Linked DNA regions of Homo sapiens: region 1 is linked to region 2. The links come from fine-mapping of genetic effects on gene expression. A gene starts in region 2. The other region holds a variant in brackets. All regions are shown on one strand. Distances are between the middles of the regions.

Region 1 (4,392 bases), 22 kb after region 2:
ATGTTCTAAGGTCATAGACCCACAAATCCAGCCTTAAAAGCAAAATTATCTTTGTGTAATTCTTTGATGAATAAGGCTACTTTAATATTGTTTAAATTTTTTTTTTGTAGTGATGGAGTCTTGCTATGTTACTCAGGCTAGTCTCAAACTCCTGAGCTCAAGCAGTTCTCCTGCCTCAGCCTCCCAAAGTGTTGGGATTATAGATGTGAGCCACTGCACCTAGCCAGTAAAAAATTGTTTTAAAAAAGAACATGAATATATGTTTTTAATTTAAAAATAATAATTATATCTAATTCAGACATTATTTAAAGGTGGTTTCAAAATATAGATTTAAGAAGAAAATAAAAACAAGGCAAAGAAATCAATAAGTAGGAAGAGACATGCAAAGAAAATTATAAATATGAGAAGGTATCTTTGGTAAGAAAGATGAAAAAGATACATAACTTTGTATGAGAAAGAATCTTGTGTGGTAAAAATGATAAAGAAAAAGAAAAGCAAATTTTTGTCCTAAGGTAGAATAATTATTTGTTCCAATATTAAAAAAGAAAGTCTAAAACAAAATTAGGCCTAAGCAAGCCATAAGAGGTTTGAGCAACTTGCAAAAGGTTTGTGAAACATGAATCTTATGAAATAAATTTTGTATGTAATCAAGTTGGCTAAATTTAGAAGGAAATTGTTTATAAATTTTTCTGAAAATTGAATATACTGATACAAAACCCAAAACTAGTTCTCTATGTTTAAAGCAGCAAGGGTTTCCTGGAGTATCATTGCTCTTAGTTAAAAAAAAAATTACCACAGGTTTTGGTTTTTAATTCTGAAATCTGGCTGGATGTGGTGACTCACACCTGTAATCCTGGTGCTTTGGGAGGCCGAGGCAGGAGGATTGCTTGAGGCCATGAGTTTGAGACCAGCTTAGACAATATCATGAGACCCCAATCTCTACCAAAAAAAATTAAAAATTAGCCAGGTATGATGGTGCACACTTTTAGTTCCTCCCCCACCCCCCAACCTTCTCAGGAGGCTGAGGTGGGAGGATCAGTTGAGCTCAGGAGTTTGAGTCTGCAGTGAGCTATGATGGTACCACTGTACTCCAGCCTGGGCAACATAATAAGACCCTATCTCTAAAAAAACAAACAAACAAAAACCCTGAAATCTGATTCTTTAAATTTTTTACCATCTTCTGAACTATAACCTCTTCCTGTTTTATGGTTTCTGTTTAATTTCCCTAATTCTAGGTTTAGAATGCTATCTTTTAAATTAGTAAGTTACTTTCTCAAAATAGAGTCTTTCTCTTGAAGATTTTCAGATTTATGTCTCAGAAGCTCAACTTCTGCTGCACCTCATTGCACATGATTTGCAGGTCATACACCATTGCCTTCTGCTCTTCCTCCTTCTCCCCTTAAGAAGGCACACTTTTTTTTTTTTTTTTTGAGACGGATTCTCACTCCGTCACCCAGGCTGAAGTGTAATGGCATGGTCTTGGCTCACTGCAACCTCCGCCTCCTGGGTTCAAGCGATTCTCCTGCCTCAGCCTCCCGAGTAGCTGGGACTACAGGTGCATGACACCACACCCGGCTAATTTTTGTATTTTTAACAGAGACGGGGTTTCACTGTGTTGGCCAGGCTGGTCTCGAACTCCTGACCTCGTGATCCACCTGCCTCGGCCTCCCAAAGTGCTGGAATTACAGGCATGAACCACCGTACCCGGCCACACTTTTTTTTTTTCTTAATCAACTTAATGACTCACTCCCTTGACATTTTGGTAAGCTTCTGCATTTATTTTCTCTGGTTCTAACTCTGCTGTTGAGGCCTAATGCTGATATGTTTGTCTTAAAGGTCTAGAAAAGCAATGTTTTCCTCCAAGAATAACTTGATTCTGTGCTGTTGGCTTTTCTTGAAATGTCTGAATTATTCCATGTAACAAGGAAACTTAATGTGCTTTCACTTTTTCTAAGAGCCATATGTTTCCCTGCTCAAGGTACTTATTTTTTTTGTTTACTTCTTCTATAATATAGTGTATACTCATAACCTTGGACACACACTCATCCAGTGTCAATTTGAATTCAAGTACCTTTTCATTAGGTTAGATTTTCAGATTATCTAAAAGGACTTCCTATAAGAAGCAATTACACTGCAGGAGTATTTATTTTTTGGTAATTGGTCTAGGAAACAAAGATTCTGTGTTTTATCAAGGTAATTTCCTGTGCTTCATGCTGTCTTTATTGGTTTTTTGTTGTTGTCGTTGTTGTTGT[T/C]TTTGAGACAGAGTCTAGCTCTGTTGCCAGGCTGGGGTGCGGTGGCGTGATCTTGGCTCACTGCAACCTCCACCTACCGGGTTCAGACGATTCTCCTGCATCAGCCTCCCGAGTAGCTGGGACTACAGGTGTGTGCCACCACACCCGGCTAATTTTTGTATTTTTAGTAGAGACGGGGTTTCACCATGTCGGCCAGGATGGTCTTGATCTCTTGACCTCGTGATCCACCCACCTCAGCCTCCCAAAGTGCTGGGATTACAGGCGTGAGCTGCTGCACCCGGCCAGGTTTTTGATTACTTAGGAAAACTGAGTCTTTAGCCTTTTTTTTTTTTTAATAAAACATACATGCAACTTTCTGCATTTGCCTTTGGAATTTTTATTCTTTAAGATAGGGTCTCACTATGTTGTCCAGTCTGGCCTGAGACTTCTACACTTAAGGGATCCTCCCACCTCATTCTTCCAAGTTGCTGGGACTACAGGTGCACACCATCATGCTCAGCTTACTTTTAAAATCTTCAGTCACGATCCTTTTGTAGTTCATAAGGATGATGACTGAGTGTTCACACTCGTGTGTGAGATGTGCCACCCTCAGACCTTGAAATCTTCAGTCACTCTTGTTAAGTGAACAACTATTATTTCACTATGATCTGCAATTCTGTTTTAATTAAATGTTTTATACTTTTTGACATATTTGGCCAGCTTTCTCAATATCAGAGTTCTAAATGAAGTCTTTTCAACCTAGAATTATCTTTGAGATTTTCTAGTTGGGCTCCTGGAGAGCCTCAAACAATGTATTTTTCAGCTTGTAGAGCTGTTAAACTAATTAGGCTTGTTTGATGTATTGAGTTGTATGAGAAGCGTTGGAGGCACAGATGGGATCAAATAACAAAGTGACACTAAGTCTTCTCTAAGTTATATTTATATGGCTATGTTATTGATGTGAAAGATCTAAAAATTATGTAAAATTTATAAATGTTTGATGGTCCTAATGTGATACTGTTAGTCATTTTTCTGGTTGTTGTCTTAAAATGCTGTATGCAATAAACATAACTGAGTTTCCTTGTCAATTGCTGAACTCTCATCAGATTTTTAACCATGGCTGTTTTAAGCCTCTGTCTTCCACAGTTTTAATTCTTCTTTAAATGCATCTGCAATCAGATTCATGGAAAAGACTCTGGCAAGTACTCCTGAATATGGGTTTCTGATAAGTTTAAGATCAATGGACTAAATAAAGATATTCAGGACCCCCATGAAGAAACTGATAAATTCATGAAACTGACAACTAAGATTAAACAGAACAAAAATTAATTACATGAGATTAAATATCTAATGAAGACAGATATTTGAAACATTGTTGGTTTTTTACTTACATGTTTTGTTTTCCAGATTTAAGGAGACTTTCTCTCTCAAGATATCTATAGTTTACAACAATTTGGTAAAGTATACTTTTGTGAACAAAACTGGCAACACTTACTTTTTCTCTGTCCCTCCAAAATTTGGAAACTATTTGTGAGTATGCTTAATTTTTATGGCAATGAAGTTGTCTGCATAAGTTTAATTAGAAGCTGCTTTTTAAATAACAAGGTATAGTTGGAAACATTGGTTACGTTACCAGGCTTTTAAATGGAATGTCATATTTTAAGTTATTTATAGGTATAGCAGAAAAAGTCTGAAGTCTGCCGTAGATTAGCTTTCTAGCCTTGAGAAATTTTTAAAAGTCAAATCTGAGATTCCTATGTGGTCAATTACTATTTCTGCTGTGCTTGTGTGAATTTATCAGGCCAAATTTGATAAAACACAAATAACAACAAATTAGTCTTACTCGGATTATCTTTGGTAGAAATCAGAATGACTGTAGAAAGAAAAATCGTGTTTCTATGTTTCTGAAGAAAAGCTAGACTATACCTGTTATTAGATTGTAACCCTGTGTGGGGTATTTTTGTTTGTTTGTTTGAGTTTTTTTATTTACCTGTGGATTGAACTGGATCTTAAATTCTTCTAGGTTCCTCCAATCCACTTTTCTCCCATGGAATTACTAAGAATGGGAACTGCTCTTTCCTGAAGCCCTGTAAGCTGAAGTTAGACAACTTGATGTAAATTTCAAGGGTCAAGACTCACGCCTGATGTGTGGGTCACATCA
Region 2 (4,321 bases):
CAAGAACAAAAGGCTTCTTCTCATTCCCAACACCCTCAAAGAAAGCTTTCCAAGTACCACACAACCCCTAACTGCACAAGTAGAGGAGACATGCTTGAAATCTAGTTGGATGTCAGATAGAATAACTCCTATACTAGGAGAAACACCAAGGAATTACTAAGATCAGTATCTTCGCCTTGCATGGAAAAAGAGGCTTCTGAGTCCCAACTATGTTGCTTCCCAGGGTATGGATAAATCATTTCTCTCTGAGCCTCATTTTTACTATCTGTAAAATAGGGATAGAAGCATCTTTCTCACCAGACGGGAAACTGGATACATAAAGTTAAATGAGACATAGTTTCTGTTCTCCAGAAGCTTAGTCTAGTGACTGAGCCATATAAACAAACAGGTTATTGCACGGCAGTGGCAGAAATCAGCACTTGGGAGGGACTCCAAGCCTAGTCCGGGGGACAAGCATGAGTCAGGAAAGGCTTCCCGGGAAGAAGTGTTTCCTAAATTGAGGTCTGATGGAAGACTAAGGGTCAGAGAACAAAGGGGAGGAGAATTGGAAAAGGCTTCTCACGTCAGAAGAAACAGCGTGTGCAAAAACCTGCAGGTGAAAGACATCATGCTGCTTCTGAGGGACCACAACGATTCAGTATAGCTGGAGGAAAGCACCAGGCCTGACCCACAAGAGCCTCCCCAACTTCATTAAGGAATTTGAGCTTTCTTCTGCAGGAACTAAACGTCTGACTACAAAGGCGGTAGGGAAATCATATCTGCACTTATTTATTTATTTTGTTCCTTACCAGCAGGAAGTCACATATTTGCATTTTAGAAGGATGACTGATTGCAGAGAGGAGAATGGATTGACTGGAGGGGACCAGAACGGGTTCTTCCACTCCCCAGTCTAGATTAAACTCACCTGTTAAATTCTTTAGCAACCTTACATTTCTCCACTCCAGCCCTCATCTCTCCTGCAATTAATTAACTGACCCAATACCTGCTTCCTTCACTGCGACACTGAATGCCACGTTAGGGGAGACAACTGATGCACTGGGCACTGCGCTTGCCACATATTAGACAGAAACACACACACACACACACACACACACACACTGCGCTTGCCACATGTTAGAAACACACACACACTGCGCTTGCCACATATCAGAAACACACACACGCACACACGCCAACGATTTAGACAACTACAGTACCTTTAGAGAAACTGGTGTCCTGGACTAAGACGCTGGTAGTAGACATGGGGGAAAAAGTGAAAGATACGCAAGCCTTGGCGACTGACTAAATGAGGGAGGGAGAAGAGGCAAGCAGGACTCCAGGTTTCTAGACCAAGCAACTGTGTGGATGCTGGCTCCCTTCACCGAGACTGACCACCCCAGAGCGGTTAAGTGGGAGAGAAGAAGAACAAAGAGCTCCGTTTGGAGAGCCCATTTCACATGCCTCCAGGCCCCAAGGACGGTAACCCATTATTGTTTCCACGCCCAATTTACCATCTCACATCGTGGCTTCCAGGCGATCCGCAAGCCTTCCAGAGCCTCAGCTCCTCAAAGCTTCGAAACACACAACCTTCCGCGACTATACGCACGCCCGCACCCCGCAGTTTTTCGGGCCTAATCTACCCACCACCTGAGGCCCAGCGGTCTTTCTTCGACTCGCGCCACGCCGGGCAGCCCCACCCTGAAACTCACTTTTGCGGGCCTCGGACACCTTCTCGGCTGCCCGCTTCTCGGCCTGCAGCAGCTGCTGAATCCCCTGAGACTGACTAGCCATGGCGGCAGCGATTCTGAGAGCAAGGCAAGCGGCCTAAGGCACCTCGAAGGCCCCTTGGGTCAGCTGACACAGCCGCCCACAATCTGCGCTTGCTCCTTGCGCCTGCGCTTCGCCCCCGTTGTCACGTGACCGCACAGCGTAGCATCAGCTGACCGCTCTTGAACTTCTGTGATTCGGCAGAAATGGGGCGGGGCGGGGCTGAGGAGAAAGGAGCGGAGCTCCTCGACTGCGCCTGTGCAGTCTACTGCGCAGTACTGCCCTCTACTCCTCTGTCCGCTCCCTGGCCTCTTTTAATGGCTACCCTGTCGCTGGTTCACTCTGTAGCCGCCCTGCCACGTATAGTGTCTGTTTGCAGTATGCTCAACGTCAAGAGAGGAGGGGCCAAGTCAAATCACTTTCCTCCTACTCTCCACACTGCTCTACTCACTCCCTTTCTGGGACTTTCTTTGGCACTCAAAATTTTATCGGGGTAGTTCAGGAAGATTCTTGCCAGTTCCGGGGATAGAGTCTTGGGTTGCCAGTTAGGAGACTCGGGATCAAGTCTGCCGCTAACCTGTGTGATTTTGGACAGGTCGCTATCCTTTTCTGAACCCGAGTTCAGGAATGGACTGGACTGTTTCCCATAAATATTTGATGAAAGCCTGCTGTGATCCTAGTCCACTGTTGATATTGAGGACATAGCAGAGAGCAGGGCAAACAAGGTCCCGGCGGAGCTCACAGTTTATGGACACAGACAGATTAATTAAAATAAATAGACAATTACAAACTGTGATAAAGTCATGAAGGAAAAATGCAGGGTGCCGTAAGAAGGAACCTTTAGTAAGGGGAGAGGAATATGGAGGTGTCTCTGAATGCTGTACCAAGGAAGTGGTGTTTAAGATCTGAAGGCCAGGCGCAGTGGCTCACGAGCCTGTAATCCCAGCACTTTGAGAGGCCGAGGCGGGTGGATCACTTCAGGTGAGGAGTTCGAGACCAGCCTGGCCGACGTGGTGAAACCCCGTCTTTACTAAAAATACAAAAATTAGCCGGGCGTGGTGGCGCGCGCCTGTAATCGCAGCTACTCAGTAGGCTGAGGCACGAGAATCGCTTGAACCCGGGAGGCGGAGGCTGCAGTGAGCCGAGATCGTGACGCTGCACTGCAGCCAGGGCGACAGAGCAAGACTGTCTCAAAAAAATTAAAATTAAAAAATTAAAATAGGCCAATCGCGGTGGCTCACGCCTATAATCCCAGCACTTTGGGAGGCTGAGGCCGGCGGATCACGAGATCAGGAATTTGAGACCAGCCTGACCAATGTGGTGAAACCTGGTCTCTACTAAAAATACAAAAATCCGGGCATGGTGGCGCGCGCCTGTAATCCCAGCTACTCAGGAGGCTGAGGTAGGAGAATCGCCTGAACCTGGGAGCTGAGGTTGCAGTGAGCCGAGATCGTGTCACTACACTCCAGCCTGGGTGACAGAGCAGACTCCATCTCAAAAATAAATAAGTAAATAAATAATAAAAATTCTCAAAAAATAAAATAAGATCTGAAGAATAAGAAGTTACCCAGGAAAGGATAGTGGGGGATGGAGGCGGTGGGAGATGATTAGGGGAAAAGGACCAGCGTGTGCGGAGTTGGGGAGGGGGTCAACTTGGCACGGAGACATCTCCCCATCCACCGTGAATAGGGAAATAGGAAGCCATGGTTTGAGTTTACAGTATGACGGGCCCTTGTCATCGCTTCACTCACTCCTCACATTAACTTTGATACTGTTACTAATTCCATTTTATATTGACCAAACTGAAGCTCAGAGAGTCGCAAAGTCTCTGAGCCAAAAGTCATGCCCCTATTAACACACAGACAGGGTATTTGAATCCAGTCAGGGCTGCAGAGTAAAACCTCTGAGCTACTGCTTTTCTGCCGGAATCCTCTGGGCTGAGGAAAGGACCAGGTGACCTCTTAGAGTCCACTGAGTGCTGAGAACATAAAATAATGCCAGAATTTTTCTTGATACAAAGATTCTTCACTCCAGGAGCTGGATTCATGGCTCAGGACATTTTCATTTGATTGACGTGGTGGGGTTGGAAAGAACAGAATTTCTATCCTTTTCTGATGTGAGAAACAGGACTGGAAAGAGTTTTGAAGATAAAACAGAATAGAGCACATGGGCCCACATGTCTCCTGCCTGAGTTACTATATTCCTTAAAGGATAAATTACACTAATCCTTGCCTCTTTTACACATAAGATAACATCTGACAGAGTTAGTGATTATACTTCTGCAAATGTACCTTATTTCTTTTTCTTTTTTCTTTTTTTTTTTTTCTTTAGATATTCTGTAGCCCAGGCTGGAGTGCAGTGGCGCGATTTCGGCTCACTGCAACCTCCGCCTCCCGGGTTCAAGCGATTCTCCTGCCTCAGCCTCTCGAGTACCTGGGATTACAGGTGCCTACCACTGTGCCTGGCTAATTTTTTTTGTAGTTTTAGTAGAGATGGGGTTTCCCCATCTTGGCCAAGCTGGTCTTAAACTCCTGACCTCGTGATCCACCAGCTTCGGCCTTCCAAAGTGCTGGGA

What was found. PIP is the estimated chance that this variant, and not a neighbour inherited with it, causes the effect.
Region 1: its variant is the best candidate, but not a certain one, in a credible set for the expression of ATP6V1G1 in whole blood (INTERVAL, PIP 0.70).

Annotation. Positions count from the first base shown.
Region 1 is chr9:114,563,737-114,568,128 of GRCh38, reverse strand. It overlaps LOC105376229 (a long non-coding RNA gene), which reads left to right and starts at 1,686. Exons shown (of 3, transcript XR_930260.2): 1 at 1,686-1,762; 2 at 3,639-3,761. It overlaps LOC124902352 (small nucleolar RNA U13), which reads left to right and starts at 2,777; the gene lies at 2,777-2,879. The variant T/C (reference allele first, on the strand shown) is at 2,253.
Region 2 is chr9:114,585,288-114,589,608 of GRCh38, reverse strand. ATP6V1G1 (ATPase H+ transporting V1 subunit G1) reads right to left here and starts at 1,840. Exons shown (of 3, transcript NM_004888.4): 1 at 1,689-1,840. The coding sequence starts at 1,770. RefSeq lists enhancers at 1,405-1,914, 2,025-2,104, 1,743-2,561, 2,562-3,381.